2 separate regions of the Homo sapiens genome follow, and region 2 is linked to region 1. The links come from fine-mapping of genetic effects on gene expression. A gene starts in region 1. The other region holds a variant in brackets. All regions are shown on one strand. Distances are from middle to middle.

Evidence for each region. PIP is the estimated chance that this variant, and not a neighbour inherited with it, causes the effect.
Region 2: its variant is fine-mapped to the expression of RIPK2 in whole blood (INTERVAL, PIP above 0.99).

The regions. Positions count from the first base shown.
Region 1 is chr8:89,751,278-89,763,565 of GRCh38, reverse strand. RIPK2 (receptor interacting serine/threonine kinase 2) reads right to left here and starts at 5,750. Exons shown (of 11, transcript NM_003821.6): 1 at 5,333-5,750; 2 at 584-737. The coding sequence starts at 5,505. It overlaps PARAIL (palmitic acid regulated anti-inflammatory lncRNA), which reads left to right and starts at 5,855. Exons shown (of 5, transcript NR_125822.1): 1 at 5,855-6,521. RefSeq lists enhancers at 3,907-3,996, 5,275-5,344 and a silencer at 5,885-6,004.
Region 2 is chr8:89,828,247-89,840,534 of GRCh38, reverse strand. No RefSeq gene overlaps it. Among named protein-coding and RNA genes, the nearest start is that of OSGIN2, 68 kb to the left of the region's middle. RefSeq lists an enhancer at 3,288-3,387. The variant G/A (reference allele first, on the strand shown) is at 6,569.

The sequences.
Region 1 (12,288 bases):
AATAATGAATACATGTATTTTGAGAATGAGGACCCCTGAATTTGTTTACTCAAGGGATTCATAATCAAAGAGAGAGTGACTGGTACCTTGGGAAAAAGGGTAAATGGCTGATACCACTGTCTATTATTAGAAAAGCTAATGTATCTGGTATTCAGAGATAATTTATTAATATTTGGCCTGCTAATTCAGAACTTTATGAACTGGTATTAATAACATTAAATTTGAATTTGAAATTGCTATTAATATAAAATAAAATATCACTTAACAGTGGATTTTACAGTATGCAGAGTTTATCTCTTCCATTTCTACCCATGTAATATGCATGTAAATACTATAATTTGGTATAAATGTTAGGAATGGTAACCCAGGCAAAATAATCTAGAGTACAGGGCCTGAATCCACAGTGTTTTAATCAACACAAAAATGTCACAAAAGGTAAAATTTTATCCCTGTGATAGTTTTTCATTATTCTTTGATTCATCTATATACCCCTAAATAATCTGACCAAATATAAAATCAAAGTAAAATATAGTTTGAATAGTAAAAATGGCAATTATGGCCACTAAAACTGTGTAATACTTACCCTATGTAGGAGTTCATTTAATGATCCATTTGGCATGTATTCAGTAACTATTCCCAAAAATTCAGGCTCATTGCAAATTCCCAAAATTGGAAGAATGTAACTAAATCTAGCTTTGTGTAAAATTTCAGCTTCTCTTAAGACATCCTTTCTTTCACTAAGAAAAAAAAATGCATAATTATTCAAGTAATAAAAAAATATACAATTATCATGCCTATAAGACTAAGCCTGGATTTTTTTTCATTAATTAGCTATGTGACCTCATGTAAATTATGCAACTTCTCTGCACCTTAGTTTCATCATATTTAAAATAGAAATAATACCTACCCTATATATTCCACAGGTCTGTTTAGAGACCAAACTAACTTCTATAAGCCATTGACAGGTAAAAGTGCTAAACACAGGTTTATTATTATTGTACTTATCCCAGGAATGGGAAAGAACATAGTATTAAATTTATAAAGTCTATCTATGTTAGAACAATTGGTGCTTGAACTAATTACATGATTAAGTTTACATTGTATTCAAATGAGCATGTTTTATTAGAATATTATATTAAATTTTATGGTTGCATACCATATAAACATTTTCCAAATATCCTGAATATTAAAACCTTTAAATGTTATAGATTCAATAGCTGCATAAAAGTCAGTAATATTTATAAATTATATACCAGAACTCAGGAAAAGATCACTGAGAACAGGTAAATGCTCAATAATATTAATAGACTGCTGGGGTAACTGGCTCCCAGGTTCATTTGTTTATTCATATGTAAAACAAATATATATTTAACTATTTTTTTTTCTATTTTTCTTTGTCACCCTGGCTAGAGTGCAGTGGTGTGATCACAGCTCACTATAGCCTCAAACTCCTGGATTCAAGCCATCCTCCCACCTTAGCCTCCCCAGCAGCCAGCTAGCTCCACAGGCATGCAACCGTGCCTATTTTTTTTTTGTAGAGACAAGGTCTCACTATGTTATTCAGGGTGGCCTCAAACTCCTGGGCTCAATTGTATCAGACGTCCAATAGGTAGGTATCAAATGATTTCAAGGAAATTAAAGGGAAGGCTAAAGTTGGGAAATTGTGAATTGTTTAATGCACTCCTTTTATGTAATATAAAAGGAGTGAAGGTGAATAAGACAGGTTAGGGACATATCTCAGTCTTAAAGCCTGGTTAGGGTGGTGAAACTTCACTTAGCAGTCACTAAGTGATTGACGGTTTGTTTGCTTTTTTTAACATACAGAATACACACTGGAAACTTTTTTTTTTTTTAACAGACCAGATCTTGCTATGTCGCCCAGACTGGCCCTCCCTACTCTGCCTCTTGAGTAGCTGGGACTACAGGGGTGTGCCAATGTACCTGGTGTGACTGAAAGTTTTTGAGTTGGGGAATGACAGTAGAATACAATTTTAAGATGATCAATTTGGCAACAAGATGTAGGATTAGTAGAAAGTGGTAGAGTTTGAAAGTCAGGTGTTAGGAGATTTTAATACCAGTTAATACATGAACCTAAAACTACAAAGGTAGCAGTGGAAATGGAAAGAAAAACACTAAGTGAATAGAATGCCCGCGTTGTAGTGACTGACTGTAGGGGGTTAAAAAAAAAATGAAAAGGAATTGGAGATGTCATTATTTTTTTACCCTGAGTGACTGGATGTTGGCTGCAGCAATGACAGAAATAGAAATGTTTCCAGGAGAAGCCTATTAGGTAAGTAATGATGATAAGTTAGTTCTTACACCTCCCAAGCTCTGAATGAATGGCTGTTGAAATATGAATAGCAACAGACATTCTAGACCAGACTAAGAGGACTACTTTTAAAAACAAACAAAAAAACAAAGCAAAAGAATCTTCGTCATTTATTTTTTGAATAGGTCATATATTTATATGTCTTAAAATTCAAGAGTAACAAGAAGGCATAAAGTGAAAAGCTTCTCTCATTCTCTGTCCTTCAATCACTTAATACTCCAACTGCTAGGAAACCAGTATCAGTTTGTGAGACCCATTTTAATTAAATGTTTATTCCCTAGATGGAAATAGTTCCATATCTGCCCCAAGAGATTTAGGCCAACAATAGAGGATGACCCTGAAGATTCCTGGATACTAAGAACAATAGAGAGTGCATGCTGCAGAAGTCTCAGTGACACTTCACACACTCTTTCCTCCTCCCATTAAGAGGCATTCTTCTTTCCACTGTGACCCTATTACATGTCAGTCACTTTATATGCACTAGCATCTTAAGATCACCCTCTAAACATAGTTTCATTAGCTCCACTTTATAAATGAGGGCACTAAGGCTCAGAAAAATTAATACTTTTCTAATGGTCACACTAATAAGTGGCAGGGTTGGCGTCAGATTTGAATTGCAATCATGGGACATTAAAGCCTGCATTCTTTCTACCCTATTGCTTGATCAAAGAATATAGTAGGAAAGTTCTTGAAGGTAGATTTTTGGCAAGATTGAGTGAGTGGGAAATTTTTTTTAAAGCCAAAAGATTTTAAAAATTGATTTTTACATTTTGAAAATAAAGGTGTAAAGTACAGCTTCCATAGTCACATCACCAAAATTAACTCAAAAATTTAATCAGAAAAGTTATGTCATCTACAGGGTATTTGAACAACCAATTGGACTCATTACTCATAAGGGGTGGGAAGATTGTTGGGGAAGGTCCACTCATCGGATAGAAGTCAGGTTATGGAGACTGATTCACCAGTCATTAAAATAAGAGCATGTAACATTGCATAAACTTATTTTTTTTCAGGTCATCCCAAAGAACAATGCAAACATTGTTCTCCATAGTCCGAGAAACACATGTATTTATTATTCGTATTTTATAAGTGAGGAAAGAGACACCAGTGAGTCAACTGCATAGCCTCATCTAATGCTCAGACTACATAAATACTGCAATGATAAGATCTTAAGTAACAAATTGGAGAAAAGAATGTGATGCAGTAAATGCCAGAGTGTTTCGCTGGTCTTATGGCTTCCTCGAAGACAGAATTAATTTCCTACCCAATTCAGTGAAGAATTTTAGACTATGAAAATTGTTCATGAGTATGGGAAGGAAACTCCCTCTTCACTTCTTGGTCCCCAAACTGCACAAAGCTTAGATAAATCAAAATCCTGAGAAGCAGCACCCAAAGTGGGAGGATCAATTGGCTTTTCAATACCTAATGGGTCCATCAGTGCTACATTTCCATATAGTGTTTGCATAACTGGTTCTAACATATATCCACCCTCTCTAACCAACCACCACCCTTAAAAGTTGACTACAGACACATATACACACTTGTCCAGCACTTGCTCCACAGAATATAAGGCCTGGAGTAAACAGACACCACACCTTGTATATCACTGAATCTGGATTATGATAGACAAGAAGTGGAAACAAGCTCTAGAAGTGTCCCAAATCTCCTGTGCCATTTAGGCCATCGAAGCCTGACAGTGAGAGACAATGAAGAAAAGCCACAGGCAGGTGAAAATCCAGTAACTTTGGCAGGGCGGAAGCTGAGGAATTTATCTGATGCTGGATACTCACAGCTTCTGGCCAATCAGGCATCGGGGATGACGTATTTTCACATTAGATATAGGAGGAGGAGAAGAGAATGTTGTAATCATGGATGTTAACTCACTAAGAACTGAATGCTGGGCCTAGTTAAATCCCTGTAGGAAGTAAAATACACAAGACTAGTGACCCATTGACTAATACACAGTCACAGGTCTATGGCACGCGGTTGTAATGTTCTTCTGAAAACAGAAACTAATGCTAACCTTCCCTTAAAACCTGTACAAACCAATAAGTGAAAGCCATTTACAATTTCTGGCCATTTAACAGTCTTTTGGTTCAATTTATTGTGGCAAAAATAGCACACATTTCCTCTACTTAATCTTCCCTGTGAGAGAAACTGAGACTGGGAGAAACTGAACTGCTAGTATTGAGTTTGATATAAAACGTTCCTGACAACACATAATAAACCAAAACCAAAATAAAAACAATAAGAAGCAAAACATCCTTGATTCTAAAGCAGTGCGGTCCAATAAACATATAATGTGAACACCACCACATACAATTTAAAATTTTCTCGTGGCCACATAAAGTAAAAAGAAACACATAAAATGAATTTTAATCTTATATTTAACCCAAGATATCAAAAATGTTATTTCAGCATATAATCAATAAACAAATAATAAAATATTATAAGTTCTTTTTTTAATAAATACTAAGCATTCGAACTCTGGTATTTTACACTTAGGTCACACTTCAATTCGGACGGGCACATTTCAAGTGCTCAATAGCCACCTGTGGCTAAGAGCTACCTACTGGACAGTGCAGCCCTACAGCCCAATTTCAAAAATAAGGAAAAAACAAAGCAAACAAAACCCACACCCACTATATATAAACACACATCAATTTCAGTAAACCCAGCGTTTAGAGTTAGGCAGTGATTGCTGATTTTTGGAGTACGGAGCCAGAACGCCTAGGAGTAAGAGGGAAGGAGAGAAAGGGTAATGGAGAGATGTGTGGAGGAATGCAACTGCTGCATCTCCAGAGAAGCCTGTGCTCCCTACGGTGCCAGAGCTTGAAGGGTGGGTGCTCCCTATCTCCCAAGCTTGAAGGGCTCCCTAGAGGTGACGAGGTGAGGCCGGCCCCAAGCGGTCACTGCCATTTGGGCTCTAGAGCCCGCTTGTCAGGGGGCTTGAGGGGATGCAGGAGTTGAGGGCTCTTCCAGGGAACCCCAGTGACTGCCTACCTGTCGAGCAGCGGAGTGTGGATGTGCAGGTGCTTCACGGCCACCTGGACGCGCCAGTCTGCGTGGCGGGCGGACGACACAGTGCCAGAGGCGCCGCGGCTCAGGTAGCGCAGGTCGGCGAGTTTGTGGTAGGGAATGGTGGGCAGGGCGCTGCAGATGGCCTCCCCGTTCATGGTCCCGGGCGCTCAGGCCGGTTCCGGGTGTGCCCCCTGCTGCGGCGGCTCCCAAGGCTCCCACGCCGCGCTCAGGCGCCCAGATACGCCCCTGCACGAGCGAGGCCGGCAAGACCCTTTTTGCCCCGCAACACTAGGTCACGAGGGCGCCCATTCCCCGGATGGCCCACGCCAGCCGCTGCTTCTCCGAACCAGAGCTGACTTCTTTTCTAGAGACTGGTGCCAACGCCGTAGCGCCGCGAAAGAGCTTCCTCTCTCGCAGCCCCGGCCCTCCCCCCGGCGCGCGCAGCGACCAGCTCCGGCCGCCCGAGCTCCTCCCTCCCCAAACTTCGCAGGTTACGTCAGCGGCGGACGGCAAGGCGGGGAGAGGGGCAGCCCGCTCGCGGCCCTCCCGCCTGGCTCTCGCCTCGGCCTGCGGCCGGGATCCTCCGCCCGGGTCGCGCAGCGGAGGCCGAGGGCTGGGACGGGCGGCTGGGAAGTGGGAAAGGGAGCTCCTTTTGTCTTCTCTTCCCATCCCCCAGGTTTGGGAAAGTTTTCCTTTTGGGAAAGCCCCTCTCTTCAGCCTGCTGGCGGGTGTCGGATTGGTTAGCGACCACCGGCCCCCGCCTCCCCCAACAGGATTCTCCTTTGGGCCACAGGTCTTCCGGAAGTTGCCAAACCCCGGTAGCGGCAGCGTCCGGCTGGGGGCTTTATTAGGGGGCACCGGGGTCTGCTTTCCGACTCCCTTCCGACTCCGCGCCTGCGCAGGAAGCGATTTGGGGAGTGTTGTGAATTCCGAGGGCTCCACACTTAAGAGGTTGTACACTCACCTGTCTACCTGGACTCCAATTTCCATATTTCCAGCCACTTGAGGACTGAGAGGTGGATGATAAACCCTGTCATAGTGGAGCAAGTTCAGGTGTTTAACCGCTGTTATGGGGGATCTGCCTTTTCTCCCTCTTCTTTCTTACTTCCATAAGTATGTATGTGCAGAGATTGAAAAATAACCTTGAGAGAGTCCATCCATCTAACTCCAGGTAAGACTGCAAATATTTCTTTCTTATAAATCTGGGAGGAATGCAGTCAGTGTTTCATGCCAACCAAAAAAGACTGCAAACGTTTTTCCATCCTTCTGCCTTGAATACCTTTCTACTTAGATGACTATTTTGTAAGACGTGAGTGCAAATGTTATATACAATACCAACTCCATACTAGATGTTTAATTAATTCTAGGGATTCAGTAATAAGGAATGACTCGAACAGATTTCTGCCTACAGACAGCTAATGCTTCTTGTATTTTTGCATTACCTGAAATGAAAGTAGCAATGTTAGATTTTACAGTAGTGGGAGGTTGTAAACAATAGTATGTTAAACATTTTTGATCATTTATAATAAAATGTTCAGCACTAAACATATGGTCTGATACTCTGTGCTTTATTGCTTAATAAGCTTTTTTTTTTCTTTTCGAGAGGGAGTCGTGCTCTGTCACCCAGGCTGGAGTGTAGTGGCGCGATCTCTGCTCTGCTCATTGCAACCTCTGCCTCCCTGGTTCAAGCAATTCTTCTGCCTCAGCCTCCCAAGTAGCTTGGATTACAGGCGCCCGCCACCACACCCAGCTAATTTTTGTATTTTTAGTAGAGACGGGGTTTCACCGTGTTGGCCAAGCTGGTCTCGAACTCCTGACCTCGTGATCCGCCCACCTTGTCCTCCCAAAGTGCTGGGATTACAGGCGTGAGCCACCGCGCCCGGCCAATAAGCTTTTTTCTTAAAAAGTACTCAGAAGACTTTTCTATCCATTCATTCTGTTAACGCGCGTCAGTGTGAAGAGACCACCAAACAGGCTTTGGGTGAGCAATAAAGCTTTTAATCATGTGGGTGTAGGCCGACTTAGTTCGAAAAAGGAGTCAGCAAAGGGAGATAGGGGTGAGGCAGTCTTTATAGGATTTGGGTAGGTAGTGGAAAATTACAGTTAAAGGGGGTTTTTCTCTTGCGGGCAGGGGTGGGGGTCACAAGGTGCTCAGTGGGGAGCTCCTGAGACTCATTGTCCAGGAGAAGGAGTGTCACAAGGTCCATTGATCAGTTAGGGAAGGGCAGGAACAAATCGCAATCGTGGAATGTCATCAGTTAAGGTAGGAACTGGCTATTTTCACTTTTGTGGTTCTTCAGTGGCTTCAGGCCATCTGGATGTATACGTGCAGGTCACAGGGTATATGATGGCTTAGCTTGGGCTCAGAGGCCTGACATGTTTATCCAGTCAATTAATTAAAAACCTGAGTCCTAGAAAAAGAGAACAAAAAATAAACAGGGAAGAAATGATCAAAATAATAATTTAAAAATTTTTGCTAGGGCAGGAGTCTTCATATTTAAAGGGCCCACCAAGTAAAAAGACCTACATTAAGGCACATACATCATTAAAAGGGTGAGAACACTAACACTAAAGGGAAGATTCTAAACGTTTTCAGAGGGCGGAAACAAAAATTAAAGAGATGGGAATTAGAATGGCATTGAATTTCTTAACAATGTTACTAAGTCATTGTTATCCTGAAATATAATGAAGTGAAATTTTTCCAATATTCTGAAGGACAGTAACTTCCAACTTAGAATTCTATAGTCAAACTTTCCGTCAAATGTAAGGGCAGAATAAAAACATTTTCACATATACAAGAATGAAATACTTTCTTTCCATGTCATTTTTTTTTTTTAAAGAAAGCTCCTAGAGAATGTGTTCAGCAAAACATGGGAGTAGCCCAAGAAAAAGAAAGACATGAGATCCAGAAAACCGGACCAGGAAATTAAGAAGGGAAACTCCAGGATGAGAGAAATATGGCAGAATTGGAGAGCAACCCATTTTCACTGAACAGGGAGATGGCAGACTTCAAGAGAAAACAGTAGTTACAGTAATTGAAATGATAGATTATCTAATTTTGAGTATTTGAGAAATTATATTGATAGATGTTTGATAGATCTAATGAACTATGGGATAAAATTGGAGAATGAATTGTAAAAAAAAATACAAGTAAAAAAAGGAGACAATTGTTAATTCCATGAAAATTACATCAGAAGGGAGACAACATTTCTCTAAACTGTTTTGTGGTGGTGAAAAATGTAGAACTTTTCAGAACTTTTGAAATGCTAATATGCATCTCTAAGAAGGAGAGAGCATGAAGCATAGAACTTCATGGAATTTATTTGTATTGTTAATTACATTACTTTTAAATTTACTTTTTAAAACCATATCACATGGTTTAAAATTTAAAACAATAAGGACTCATAATGCAATAGAAAAATTGAGAAGAGGACTTAGATACCTTGAAAAAGAGGTGAAAAGGTTCTCAACATCATTAATTATCAGGGAATCACAAATTTTATTCACATTGCAACACTACTATCCAAACAGTAGAATGAATAAAATTAAAAAGACAGAATATACCAAGTGTGAGTGAGGATTTGGAGCAACAGGAGCTCTTGTACACTGCTCATGGGAGTGTTGATTGGTTCAATCAATTTTGTAAATTGTATGTCAGTATCTATTAAAATTGTAGATATGCAGATCCTATGACCCAGTAATTCCTTGCTTCGGTATGTGGACATGTGTATGCATCTACTAGAATGTTCATAGCAGTGGTGTTTATAATAGCCTCAAACTGGAAATTACCCAGATATCCATAAATAGTAGAATAGATAAATACATTTTGGCACATTTATGCAATATAATACTAAATGGGAATGAAATTAAACAGTGTACAAATATAATGTTGGATGAAAAAAGCCAGATACAGAAGAGTACATATTGCATGAGTCCATTTGTATAAAGTACAAAAATAAATAAAACTAACTTATGCTTATAGAAATCTTCTCTCTAGTAGGGGAGAGGCATTGATTAGAAGGGAATCATGAGGTATTTAGGATGATGGTAATGTTCTATTTTTTGATTCAGGACCTAGGCTGTAGGTGCCAGTTGCATGGGTGTGTTCAGTTTATGAAAATTCTTGGAGATTACACTCACATTCACTTTTCTGAATATAGTACTTCAATAAAAAGTTAATTGGTTTAAATATAAAATAAACATGCACATATATATAGGCATATATTGTATATGCATATATAAATATAGATTTATATATTATATTACTTCTGTTTATATTTATATATTTAAAATATATAAATATATTTAAAATATATATATTTATTTTAAATATATATTTTAAATATATATATTTATTTTAAATATATATTTTAAATATATAAATATATATATTTTAAATATATAAATATATATTTTAAATATATATAAATATGTATATATAAATATATATTTATATATTAATATATATATATACTATGTGTGCATGTTTACATTTAATTATATATAAATTATATATAAAATATATATATAAAATATCTGTCCCTTTTATGTAATTATTATAACACTATATACTCGTCTACTTTGCTTACTTTTCACTTAATGTATCTTGGATATCTTTCCATATGAATGCATAAAAAGCTCTCTTATCTTTTTTATTTTCTAGACGCTGATGGATATACCATAATTTATCCCCCATTGATAGGCATTTACTTTGTTTTCACACATATGCTATTACAGATAATGCTGCAATAGTTAATTTTTGCTTATGTTATTTCATACATATATATCTACGTATTCCAGAAGCCAAATTGCAGGATCAGAGTATGTTGGTTTGTAACTTTGGTTGATGTCATTGAATTGTTCTTCATTGAAGTTATACTAATTTTCTTTTCCTGTAGATGATGAAAATAGCTATTTCTCCACACACTTACTTTCCTTCCTTTTAAAGATGGATAGTACGTTGTTGGTCTGCTGATTCCTGAAGTGTTCGGTGCTTCTAAATTCATGTAAATGCTAAGATTCTTTTTATCACAAGCCTTCTAAATATTTTTTAATCACCACCTTAAACCTTTAGCTTTCATGATAGGTTTTACCAGTATACAGTTTTAAAAACATATATTATTAGTCATATATGGGAATTAATTAAATTATATATTTCTTCATATACATATAGTTCAATTCCCACAATTAATTGGCTAAAGATAGAAAGTTTAAGGGATATCGATGCTGAAATACATCAACTAAACAAGAAAGAAAATATTAGAATATTTACGCAAAGTAGGCTTAAAAAACAAGAATCACATCTATATGTTGATTTCATCTGTTCAAAATTCTATAAAATTACATCAATATTTGTTTTTCCGTGAGATAAGGGTTATTTATACCTGTATGTATTATTTTAGGAAATTGAACCTTGAAATTGCATATCTCTTCAATTAGACACGAGACAAGAAATGGAAAATAAACTACCTAAAAAACTACAAATTTAAGAATTTCAAACATTTCATATTGTAAACTTTTCTAATTTTTGGTCTAAAAGCACCTAATAAGTTTTAAAGACACAAATCCTGGGGAAGTGTCTATAATTGCATAATAATAACTGTACTGCATGGGAAAACTAATGTTTAGGGTACATTTGATACCTTCACCCCCAAAACTTTTAATACATGATGTATCTGATGATAGAGTCTATTATTATGAGGAGATAGAAAAATATACTTTTTGCAGCTAACTAGTAAAATCATGTTTCTCATTTAGCCATCTGTATTCAATCCTAAAATTGAACATGTCATATTTAAATTGATTGGCGAAATGATGTTTTTTTCTTTTGAATTATTAGCAAACATTACATGGAAATCAACCTTTTAATATGATATTTACTAATAACACTTTTCTCAAATATTTGTCAATTTAAAGTTACATTTGAATCTTACCATTTGGAAAAAAGGTGAAATTTTTAAAAAAAATTCTAAGAAGGTGAAGTTAATATATATTTCTTTGAAAGTGCTGAAAAGTAAAAACAAAACAAAACAGTTGGAGACACTGAGCTAGTACAATCTCCCACCTAATTCAAGAATATCTAATGAAGAGTTGACCAGTTCTTTTGAACATTCCCTGGCAAAAGGGAAATCACTACATTTTGAGCAAGCCCTTTCCATTGGTTACAGATTTCTTTTGTTAAAATTCTCTAACATTCTAAATTTTAGGAGGTTCTTCTGGTCTCAATATTACTGGCTTTTGTTGTATTAAGTCTAACTCTCCTACCTAGACAATTGAAACAAAGGGTCTACCCCTTTTAAGGCGGTATGAGGGATTTAAAAGATAAATACTTGGAAGATAGATATGTCATCTTTAGTCTTCTTTTACTTCAACTTGGTTTTTAGTCTCTGTGGTTGTCCTATATTCATCAATATCCCCGCCTCCAAATAGATTAGAAAATTTTGTGTGAAATCTGACAGATGAGAGGGATTGTGGCTATACCTGTCTTTGATCTGAATCTATTCACGCAATGGAAGACGGCCCTGCTAAACTATTCATTTAGGTTGGGCCTAAATTCTTTTCTTTTCTTTTCTTTTCTCTTTTCTTTTCTTTTCTTTCTTTCTTTCTTTTTTTTTCTTTCTTTCTTGTCTTTCCTTCTCTCTCTCTTTCTCTCTCTTTTTCTCTTTCTTTTCTTTTTTCTTTCTTTCTTTCTTTTCTCCGTTTCCTTCTCCTCCTTTTTTTCCTTCTTCTCCTCCTCCCCCTCCCTCTCACCCCCTTCCTCTTCTTTCTTCATCCTTTTCTCTTAATGAAGTGCCTTTAAAACAGGTTTTCCCTCTTGTACAATTGATTCTTTTAGACCCAGTGTTATTGTTTGAACCATGTTTCCCAAAAAGATGTTGAAGTCCTAACCCTCAATACCGATGACCGTGACCAACCATATTTTGAAATAGAATCTTTAC
Region 2 (12,288 bases), 77 kb before region 1:
CAGCCGCACTCCAGCTTGGGTGACACAGCATGACCCTGTCTTTACTCAAAGAGGAAATGTCTATCACAATTCCAAAATAAGCATAGTTTCCTTAAAGAAAATGGCAGAAATACTCCGGTGCTTTCACTAACTCATTTAAAATCTGCTTAAACTTATTTATCATTGTATTTTAAAACATTTTTGTTACATTGTATTAGTGAACACAATTCAAAATAATACCAACCATTTAAAATAAATTTAGGAAGCCTAGTTGGAAATGCTAAGCATCACCTAGATATGTGCAAATACAGATGCTCCTGACTACCAATGGAGTCACATCCTGATAAACCCATCCTGAGTTGAAAATACCATAGCAAGCCCATTTTAAGTTGAGGAATGTACAGAAAGTGAACCACTTTTGAGCTATTGTGAAGTGAAAAAATGCAAGTTGAACCATCTTAAGTAGGGGACTGTCTGTAGCAAACAATTATATCCTCACCAAGTCTTGTATGTGCATCTTACTATTGACATAAAGGTGTTGGATCTAGCGGGCCTAATACCTGTGTATATTTTAAACATTTTGAAAATTTTACTTAAAATGAATTTTATTTTTTACCTTCCATGGGCAGCTTAGCTAGTATGATTAAGGGAGACAGAGTCTCACTCTGTTGCCCAGGCTGGAGTGCAGTGGCGCAATCTCAGCTCACTGCAATCTCGGCCTCCCACGTTCAAGTGATTCTCCTGCCTCAGCCTCCTGAGTAGCTGGGACTACAGGTGCCTGCCATCATGCCTGGCTAATTTTTATATTTTCAGTAGAGATTGGGTTTCACCATGTTAGCTAGGCTGATCTTGAACTCCTGACCTCAGGTGATCTGCCCACCTCGGTCCCCCAAAGTGCTGGGATTACAGGCGTGAGCCACTGCCCACTGCACCTGGCCATTGTTAACTTTTTAGAGTGAGTGTTGGGGTGGGAGATGAGAGCAGAGACATGGGTGGGAGTGAGGGTGGGGGTAAGAGGGAGGTTGGACCGGTTGTGGTTGTAGCTATAGCCTGTTTCCCAACTTTTGGAAAATATGTTTTTTTTTTCATTAGGAAGAGGAGAAATAGTCTAAATAACTAGGGAACCCTACACCAATACTTTAAAAAGAATTAGAACAAATTCCTCTAATTAAAATTTCATATGCTTTCTATAATATATATATTATATATATATGCAGTGGAATATTATTCAATCATAATAAGTATTAAAACTTTTTACAAAAGTATTGATAGTACAGCATGTATGAATCTCAGAAACATTATGTTAAGTGAGAGAAGCTAGACACAAAAGGTCAGACATTGTATGATTCTATTTATATGAAATATCCAGAGTAGGTAAATCCTTAGAGCTAGAACATAGAATAGTGGTTGCCAGACACTAGGGGGAGGGAGGAATGGAGACCAACTGTTTAATGGTACCAGGTTTCCAGCTGGGGTGATGAAATGCTTCCGAAACTAGATGGATGTGCTGGTTGCACAACACTGTGAATATGCTAATAGCCACTGAATTGTTCACTTCAAAGTGTAAATTAATTTTATGTTATGTGAATTCCACCTCAATTAAAAAACAGTATATAGAGCATAAACCTATTTTTTGGAAAATATTTAGACCCACTTTTAATTAGAATAGTTTTACAAGTAACTTGATAGTTCTTAATAATAAAACACTGAAGGCTGGGTGCGGTGGCTCATGCCTGTAATCCCAGAACTGGGAGGCCAAGGCAGGCGGATCACCTGAGGTCAGGAGTTCAAGACCAGCCTGACCAACATGGAGAACCCCTGTCTCTACTAAAAATACAAAATTAGCCGGGTGTGGTGGCGCATGCCTGTAATCCCAGCTACTCAGGAGGCTGAGGCAGGAGAATCACTTGAACCTGGAAGGCGGAAGTTACGGTGAGCCGAGATCGCACCATTGCACTCCAGCCTGAGCAACAAGAGCGAAACTCCATCTCAAAATAAATAAATAAATAAATAAATAATAAAACACTGATTTTAAAATCACATGACTTTGTAGGGTATCTGTATATAAATCCTGAAATTCTCTGTCTGCTATAGATAAAGTCCTGTGTGTTTTATAGCTGGTTAATGTGATGCATAAAACAGCACTGTGAAGCTTTATGTCTAACCAGGACTAAATACATATAGGTTATGAATAGTTTTCGAATTTGTTTTAAATACAGTTCTGCTTGGTAACAAGTTAACTGTCCTCCTAACATGAAATGAATAGATTTTTAATGGAAATAAGAGAAACAGCTATCTTGATTTCTTGACCCTTTCACAATAAGCTACAATACATTATATAAGGTTTATTTTAACAATACACAGCTTAAGAGTTGTCTAGCAAGCACAACCCACAGATATTTGAATCTGATACTTTTTACACCTGCAGAAGGTTTATCTATGAAAAGCCTGCAATGATGTGCAGCAAAATGTTCACAGTGCTTATTTTTTCTGCACTTATCTGTAGTGAGTTTATTTTGTGATTATCTGTACCTTTTAACTTTTCAACAATGAGTATGTGTTACTTGAACAAAGATACACTTTTTATAATGTTGTCCATGCCTCCATATTTAACCTGCTATTCTTTCTTTGCAATCTCAGATATAGTCTTACTCTTGAACTTTATTGCCAAGTACAAGGACAATGGCTTTCTCTTTGCTTCCTGGTGACACTTTTAGGCAAATATCCTCTTTTCATCCTTCAAAAACCTGCTCTCAAGCCATGTCACTCCCAGGCATCTCAGCCAACCGTGAATGTCCTTGGGGTAAAGAAGAGCAGTATACAGATGCCAGGATACCCCACCACATTTCTGCTTTCATTGACACGCTCAACCTCAATCAACTGTATCTGCTCTTTATTCCCACACCTCATGGTGGAGCTTTCTGCCTCTTCCTGATCCAATAGGGCAATCAATCTGATGCCTTCATCTCTGGAATTCTTGTTTATGGGTTTATGAATTCTTGTGAAATTCAATATCCCTTAATCTCTAAAGGTAGAGATTTTAGGTAACTCCAGAGGGTACGTAAGGCCTTGTGAATTAAGGAAAATTGCCCAAGGTCACATCACTGGACAGTCATGTCTAGCTAGAATCCAGACTCCAATTCTAGGGAGTCTGGTTTATTTCTGTAAACCATAATGCCACAGATGTGAAGCCTAATTCAAGAACATCTCCATGGCAAACTCTTGTTTTAGTTAGAGAAATAGGAAAACATGACAAAGAATGTGTCATCGACTTCTATTTAAACGTTCAAGTTCCTCATCTTCAAGGATTTGCTGGATGACAGCTAACAAACAGTCAGATTGGATGATTCACAAAGACCGTTTCCAGTGTTTAAAAAAAATATGCTGGGGACTTTCATAGAAATTTCTACTTTTCTGAAAGCATTTTATTTCTTCATCTTTCTCTTCCTGCTCATATCCACATTCTTGTTTTCTTCCTGCTGACTGCACATAAACAGGATGTGTGGAAAGCAAGTCTAAAGAGGTAACTAAGTGAAAGGTTCACCGTTGATGTAAATCAAGAGTAGATCAGTGAAGTGGAAACCAGCAGAACTGCTTTACTGTTAGTATTCAGAGACACTAGCAAAAGAAGCTAATGTTGGTTCATTGTGAGCTAATAAAAGCAATAACCACTGGAAGATAGAGCTGAACTTTCATTTACTTACTTTACTTTTACTATGGTAATATTACTTAATAACTTTCCTTTAATGAACTCATTAAGATCATAAGCGAGTGCTTTTAATATTAAGTATGCACCTCCCCCCCACCCAAATTATACTGGTTGAATTTTCATGTTAAAATAAAGCAAAAATAAATATTAATATAAAATATTTAATCAAATATTTTAAAAATTTCAGTAGTAAAGTAAACCAACTCCAGCAGAGAAAGGGTTATCACACACACACACACACACACACACACACACACACACACACACACACCCTATCTGATGAGTTCTCTTTGCCAATAAAACAAACCAACAAACAAAACTGATCAAGAAACAAGACTATAGCTGGGCATGGTGGCTCATGCTTGTAATCCCAGCCCTTCAGGAGGCTGAGGTGGGCGGATCACCTGAGCCTGAACCCAGGAGGCCAAGGCTGCTGTGAGCTGAGATGGTGCCATTGCACCCCAGCCTGGGCGACAGAGCGAGAACAAAACAAAACAAAAGAAACAAGGCTATAGACAAGTCTGAGCTATTTTAGAAAATGGCACATGGTTGTTAATATCCAGTGAGTTCTACTTAGATTTTTCTTCTGTTTTTTCTTGTTCAACACCCAAATCTGTTAGTCAAGAGTAGTAAAGCCACTAAGTGTATTTTGTTGTTGAAGCTACAACATACAAGAAAAAAGAAAACATAGAAAGCAGCATTACTGAAACACAATTTTAGGAAACATTAATTCTCAGTATTGTGAACTAACTCCAAGAGGTATTCCGACGGACATTACCCCCATCATACTTTAGGATGTGGAGGACCTTTAATTAAAAACCCCAAGGAAAAAAATTTAATTATTTCCTTTTTGGAAAAAATCCATAGTTCTATCAGCCTCATTGTTCAAAAATTCTTTCATTTCCTCTCTTTCATGGTGAAATTCCCTCCTTTGTCTTTGGAAGTGAATTTGGTTATTACCTTTTGTAAATATTTTAGATTATCTGTAGAAAAAGGGAGAACCATGAATAGAGTCACATTCTTGAGCTATGATTTGAGATACTTATTTGCCCTTAAGAAACATTAAATTTCTTCCTTGTTTTAGTAAGAATGCTTTATTTCCTTTAATGCCCAGGGGGTATGTTGTCACATTTTCACTTTGAAGATAGAAATTTCCCACACTTTCCCATACTGAATTAATATTGACATTCATTAACAAGACTAGCAACAAGTGTCAAAATATAAATGATTACAGCCCCGTGAGCAGGAAGGTAGAAATTACTTACTGTTTTTCCTTGGGGTGGTAATTAGCTACTGTTTGCCGTCTGTAAAATCACAAGTAAAATGTGGATTATGTTTCATGAGATGAAAAGAACATTTCAAACATAATATCTTGAGTTAGTTCTCACAACACCTCTGTTAGAAAGTATGAACATCACCATTTTTACTGACAAAGTCATCCACAGAGAGGATAACCAAGTAGAAAGAGGATTCAAACTCCTCATCTTGACTCCAAACTGTAAGATTTTTCTACAGTGCCTTCTTCCTTCCCTCCCTTTCAAAGTTTTGTTTCCTCTCTTTTAACTATTCTTACTTCCAATTCAAAGGCAAAGCATTTGTATAAATACATTCGCAGACTTTTCTTATCTATAATGGGTGATTTCTAGTCCCCTCTTTTGAGTATTCCCAAAGCTGAGGGAGAAAGGATGCTTCGAATTAGCTTTTGCTGTCAGTTACACAGATTTTTCTTTCCTCATTAACCTGAAGGAATCCCATAAACATAATTTAAGAACGGTAAAAATGGTTTTTGACTTTCTTTATTTTCATGTCTCCTTTCTCCTCCTCATTCTGTATTCTGGCGTTGGAGAAGAGCTAGAGAGAACATCCTTAAAGATGCACTTTTTTTTTTTCAGTATGCCCTATTTTTTTTGATAAAATTGTGGTGAAAAACTCATAATATAAATTTATACTCTTAACCATTTTTAAGTGCACTATTACAATAGTGTTAACTGTATCCACATTATTGGGTAACAGATCTCTAGAACTTTTTCATCTTGCAAAACCGAAATCCTTTGCCCATCAAATAACAACTCCCATTTCACCCTCCCCTTAGCTCCTGGAAACCACCATTCTACTTTCTGTTTCCGTGGTTTCCCCTACTCTACATAGCTCTACATAAGTGGAATTATACAGTATTTGTTCCTCTGTGACTGGCTTATTTTACTAAGCATAATGTCTTCAAGGTTCATCGATGTTGTAGCATATAACAAAATTTTCTTCTTTTTTAAAAGGCTAAATATGTATATGACACGTTTCCTTTATCCATTCATTTATAAACGGAATTTCAGGCTACTTCCACATCTTGGCTCTTGTGAATAATGATGCATTGAATATAGGTGTACAAATACCTCTTTGCGCTCTTGCTTTATATTCTTTTGTATTTATACCCAGAAGTGGGATGCTACCTCACATGGTAATTCTGTCTTTAGTTTTTTGAGGAATCATGCTGTTTTCAAGAGCAGCTACACCATTTTACATTTCTACCAGCGGTACACAAAGACTCAAATGTCTCCTCATCCTCACCAATACTTGTTATTTTCTGGTTTGTTGATAGTGGCCATCCTAATGGGTATGAGGTGACATCTCATTGTGGTTTTGATTTGTGTTTTACTCTAATGATTAGTGGGTATGCCGTTTTAAAAAGAAATTAAAATTCTTTTCATAATTGAGTACATATTATATTCTAGGAACTGTGCTTTGTGTGTTGCATGCATGCAATAGCTTGTTACTTTTAACAAACATTCTATGGCCTAAGTAGTATTATCCTCACTTTGTACCAGAGGAAACTGAGAATCAGAGTTTAAGTGATCTTTCTAAGGACAGAGAGCTGCTAAATGGTAA[G/A]GCCAGAATTCAAAATCCGGTCTGATACCGAAGCTCATATTTCTAACTACTGAGCTATTCTCTCTTGGCCTTTTGCTTTGCCCATTAATTCCTTAATGTGTTGTGTAGGTGGCTAACACACTGTTCTTCAAAAGGAAACAGAAAGTAACATTAATTAAGTGTCTGTTTTGTGCTGGACACATTGCTAAATGCCTTCAGATGTGTATGTGTACATGTGCGAAGTGAAGGAGGAAAGTCCTTTCATTTTACACATTGAAGCATAAATCCATTTGCATGGTTACTGTTGTAAGTCAAGTAGTGCAATGAAAGGAAAATTAAGCTTAGATTTCTTACCATATAGTCTTTGTAAACTTGAAGGGCTTTTTTTACTGGTAAATACAATCCTAAGATATATGTATAAATTCCAGACAGAGAAATTCTAATTCCAATTAAGGAGTTGATTGTACCGGTGTAAAGAGGGAATCTTATCAGGAAGAGGATACACAACCAAACACACACACACACACACACACACACACACACACACACACACACAGAGGAAGAAGAGGCTTAGCTAGGGATACAAGGAAGCAAAATAAATGATTACATAAATGTTGGAGCTACCACATGGCCTATTTTCTCTGACACTGCTCTTTATTCCACTATTTTTCCAGTGTAAGATGTTTACAGCTTCTTCCGTTATGGTCACCTTATTCTACTCCACTGCATGGCCCCATCTTGTTATGTAGGTGATATATAGCAATGGGTCCAGATTTATAAGTTTAGTTTTGCTTGTGTAGCAACAAATTCAGAGCTGATTGTGACTTTTAAGATCGCCCTAAGCCCCAGGAAAATTGATCCCGTGAAAATACAACTCTCAACTGTCTTTGGGAACCTCCTAATACTGGAATCTTTAGCCCAACCTTCGCTTGATCATGAAAAGCATCAAGTGAATGGGAAACTAAAATTATTATTTATTTATTATCATTTTTTGAGATGGGGTCTCATTGTGTTACCCAGGCTGGGCTCAAACTCCTGGGCTAAAGCGATCCTCCCAGCTCAGCCTGCTGAGTGACTGAGACTATAGGTGGATGCACTGTGCCCACTAAAATTACTTTTAACTGTGCCTTCCAACTAAGAAACACATCTACTCCCACCCCCAATTATCAGGATAGAAATCTCTTGGGATCTACTACTGCAGTTATCCCAATTTGTAGCACTGATGATAATCAAAAACATCTCTAGGTAGAAAAGTATAAATATCTCAATAAACTTATTATAAAAGAGGCAATAGAAATGCCTGTTGGTATTTATGACATTCATGAAGTGCTGCCAATGATGCAGGAGCAAATGAGCTAGTTAACATTTGTAGGCAAATATGGTATCCTTTACAGCCCTCTTCCACTGAATGAAAGAGGCAGCCTGGTGAGCTTGATAATGTGTTTTGTATCACAGCCTTGAGTGACAAATCCATGAGCCAGAAACAGCAAGTCATATTATCTCAGCATTTCTAAATTTTATAGATTTACAATTGCTGAGTGAGTTAAAAAGAAACTATCAAGTATACTAAATGCTGCATGTAGATATCATATCTGGAATCATAGCCATCTGTGAAAGTTATACACAGATTTATTATTCCATTTCATTAACCCATTTCATCTGTTCTCTGTACAAGTACTTTTTCACTAATTTTGCTTTCTTTTCCTATTTTATGTGATTGATCATTATTTCCTTCTTTTCTACTCTGTTAATATTTCAACTTCTCTTAATTAAGTTTTCTAATGAAACTTTATTGAAGTCCTTTCATAAGATAAATGGCTTTGATGTTGAGCCATGAATGCAATGGAAGAAAAAAACAATGAGAGCCATAACTTCCTTAAATAACTAGCACTCTATTTTCAGTTGCTTAGTTTTAATTTTTAAGGCTTATTCACTGTGAAGAGTGTAGAGTTATCGAGTTCTGCAAAACATTTGACAACACAGCAGTAGATTCTGTCAGTTATTTCATGATGAACATGGAAATTTAAATCTAAGATATAAAGTATGTTGCAAAGAAGGTGAAATTTTTGAGTGTAAATGACTTTCAAATGAATATTTTTAATGGGGGCATTCCGATAAAATTTTTAAATGTGAATTCCAGTTAACAAAAGCATTGTTCCTATGTGATAGAATTAGTGCTATTGGTATTCTTAGTTTACAAATGAGAAAACAGAGCCTTAGTAAGGATAAGGAACATGCCCAAAGTCACATAGTTCCTAAGTAACTAAATGTGATTTGGATCAGGATTGTCATATTCCAAAAATCTGTTTTTGACCCAACATGCTATACTACTAATGTTATTTTGTATTCTCTTATTTTCTCTTTCTTCTTTTTAAGAGACGAGGTGTTGCTCTGTCACTTGGGCTGGAGCGCAGTTGAATGATTATAGCTCTCACCGCAGACTCAAAAACTCCTGGGCTCAATCAATTTTTTTTTTTTTTTGAGACGGAGTCTCTCTCTCTCACCCAGGCTGGAGTGCAGTGGCGCGATCTATCTTGGCTCACTGCAAGCTCCGCCTCCCAGGTTCACACCATTCTCCTGCTTCAGCCTCCCAAGTAGCTGGGATTACAGGCATCCTCCACTATGCCTAGATAATTTCACATCTTTAGTAGAGACAGGGTTTCACCATGTTGGCCAGGCTGGTCTCGAACTCCTGACCTCAGGTGATCTGCCCGCCTTGGCCTCCCAAAGTGCTGGGATTACAGGCGTAAGCCACTGCACCTGGCCTCAATCGCTTCTTCTGCCTCAGCCTCACAAACAGCTGGGATCCTAGGCGCAGGCTACCATGTCAGGCTCTGCTATTTTCATTTGATATGTAATCATAAATATTTTTCTATGTTTTTTGGGATATCATTTTTATAAGCCACGGAATTCTCCTCCAAGTTGATGCATAGTTTCTTTTGTTATTGTTTGTTTTTATTCTTACAAATAAGAGTATAGTTAACAAGTTAACATTGCCACACTTATCTTTTCAATTCTGTTAAATTTTATCCTTACGATAAATTCCTAGGTATGTATGTTTGATAAAGAGTAGGTTTTTAAAAAGTTGTCTTTGTTTTTCATAGGTATTTTTTTTTTCTTTTTGAGATGGAGTCCCACTCTGTCACCCAGGCTGGAATGCAGTGACGCGATCTCAGCTCACTGCAACCTCTGCCTCCCAGGTTCAAGTGATTCTCCTGCCTCAGCCTCTCGAGTAGCTGGGATTACAGGTGGCAGCACAATGCCCAGCTAATATTTGTGTTTTTTTTAGCAGAGACGGTGTTTCCCCATGTTGGCCAGTCTGGTCTCAAACTTCTGAAACCAGGTGACTCACCTGCCTCAGCCTCCCAAAGTGCTGGGATTACAGGCGTGAGCCACCATGCCTGGCCTCTTTCTCATAGGTATTTCTTTTATTTAAAAAATTAATAAGACGTGCAGGACTCGGTATGAACAAAGAAAAAAAGGAAATTTTAAAAATAAAAAACCATACAAATAATGCATAAATAAATGCTAGTTGAGAAATTCTCAAGCCATATGGTGAGGCAATTTCAGACAGTATATATTTTACCTACTTTGATTGGATTTGGTCTTTCAGGCTATATTTTCCTTAAGCACATGAATCCTATAATTGAGAGCCTGGCATAGAATCAGTAGCTAAAAGAATAATAGATAATGAGTTGAAAGATGTCTTCCAACAGAAGAGACAGCATAGCTACCATACTTTGCCAAAACAATAAATTGATTTATGGTGTTATAGAGATGCAATTTTAAATTCACTGGTATAAATTTCCAGGTTTGTATACTCACAATGTATACAGTCATGCTTACTATGTTAAGAATCTTTTTAAAGAAACTTTTATAATGTAGTTCCTCATGGATTATTATTTATATCTTCATCAATCCGCCTTTCAGTTTCCTACTCTGAGCTTACTCTTACCCAGGAAAGCTCTTTAAACTAATCTCACTTCTCGTGATCATGAACATCCCTCAGCTTACTCACTCTCAAGGTCATTATTTATTCATTTAGCCAATAGATAATTGCCAAGTCTTCTAGATGCTGAAGCTAGAGCAGTGTCTAAGAGACAAATAAGATCTCTGTTTCTGTGGAGTATTGTTGGAGGAGGCAGATAACACAAAGAAATGGGCATTTTAAGATTGTAATAAATACTATGAGAGTAAAATGGAGATGGGGCCTAAGAGTGGCTCACACCTGTAATCCCAGCACTTTGGGAGGCCGAGGTGGGTGGATCACGAGGTCAAGAGATTGAGACTATCCTGGTTAACATGGTGAAACCCATCTCTACTAAAATTACAAAAAATTAGCTGGGCGTGGTGGTGAGTGCCTGCAATCCTAGTTACTTGGGAGGCTGAGGTACGAGAATCACTTGAACCTAGGAGGTGGAGGTTGAAGTGAGCCAAGATGGTGCCATTGCACTCCAGCCTGGGTGGCAAGAGTGAAACTCCATCTCAAAAAAAAAAAAAAAAAAGGAAAAAAAAACAACAACGAAAAACAGGGAGATGAGACTGAGATTGTCTAAGGCAGGGCGTTGGGGGAAGAGGGTTACTCTCATATGGTGATAATGAAAGGCTTCTGAAAGCATCTGAGCTAAGACCTAAATGATGAGGAATGAGCATTCCAGGTGGAGGGAGAAAATCCCCTGGGGAAGCCAAAGGTTTGTCCTACAAAACAGAAAAAATGCCAGAGGGAGTAAGTGCATGTGGCAGGAGGTGAGCTTGTCGAAATTTTTTGGGAACTGATCATATTGGACAGTGTGGGTCATGCTAAGAACCCACAATAGTTATTATGCTTGCAAGGGGAGCACACTTTGGAGGTTGTTGAATAGGAGAGTAAAATGATGTGATTTACTTTTTAAAAAGATGATCTGGCTGCTGTATGTCTTGTCCAAGATCAATCTCCACCCCATCTTGTGATAACATCCAGTGTCTAGCACATAGTGAGTGCCGAATGACTGAGCACAAATTATCCATTCCATTTCCAATATCTTCTGTATAATCTCTCCTTAACTGTCCTTTCCTTCCCACTTCTCTGACCACAGGAAAAATCCTTATTCATTAAGATTCAGCTAAAGCATTACTGTTCTGGGAAGCCTTTCTGATCTGCAGAGCTGAGTGAAATACCCGCCTCTATGCAGTTTTTGGACATTGTGCTCGCTTCTGTTATAATACTTAACATAATTATCGGTTAGGTTGTCTTCCCTCCCTATAGTGCTTAGCAAGGCCTATTTCTTATTCTTACTTAATCTTCAGTGACTATGTTAGATGATCTGCACATAGTCTGTTCACCTAAACTGCCCTTAACTGTTGATGTATTTGTTAATCACTTGGTATTACCCAACTTTGAAACTGACTCTAGAGAGGGTGACCTCTCTAGAAAACCTTTCTAATCTCAAGCCAGCTCTGTACTCCCTTCACAATATTGTAGCTTCACCCTAGATAATTCTTATTTTGCATTAAAATCTTGGCTTCCAGCTGGGCACAGTGGCTCATGACTGTAATCCCAGCACTTTGGGAGGCTGAGGTGGGTGGATCACGTGAGGCCAGGAGTTTGAGACCAGCCTGGCCAACATGGCAAGACCTTGTCTCTACTAAAAATACAAAAATTAGTGGGTGTGTTGGTGCACATCTATAATCCCAACTATTCGGGAGGGTGAGGCACAAGAATCACTTGAACCTGGAACAATGAGATTGCAGTGAGATGAGAT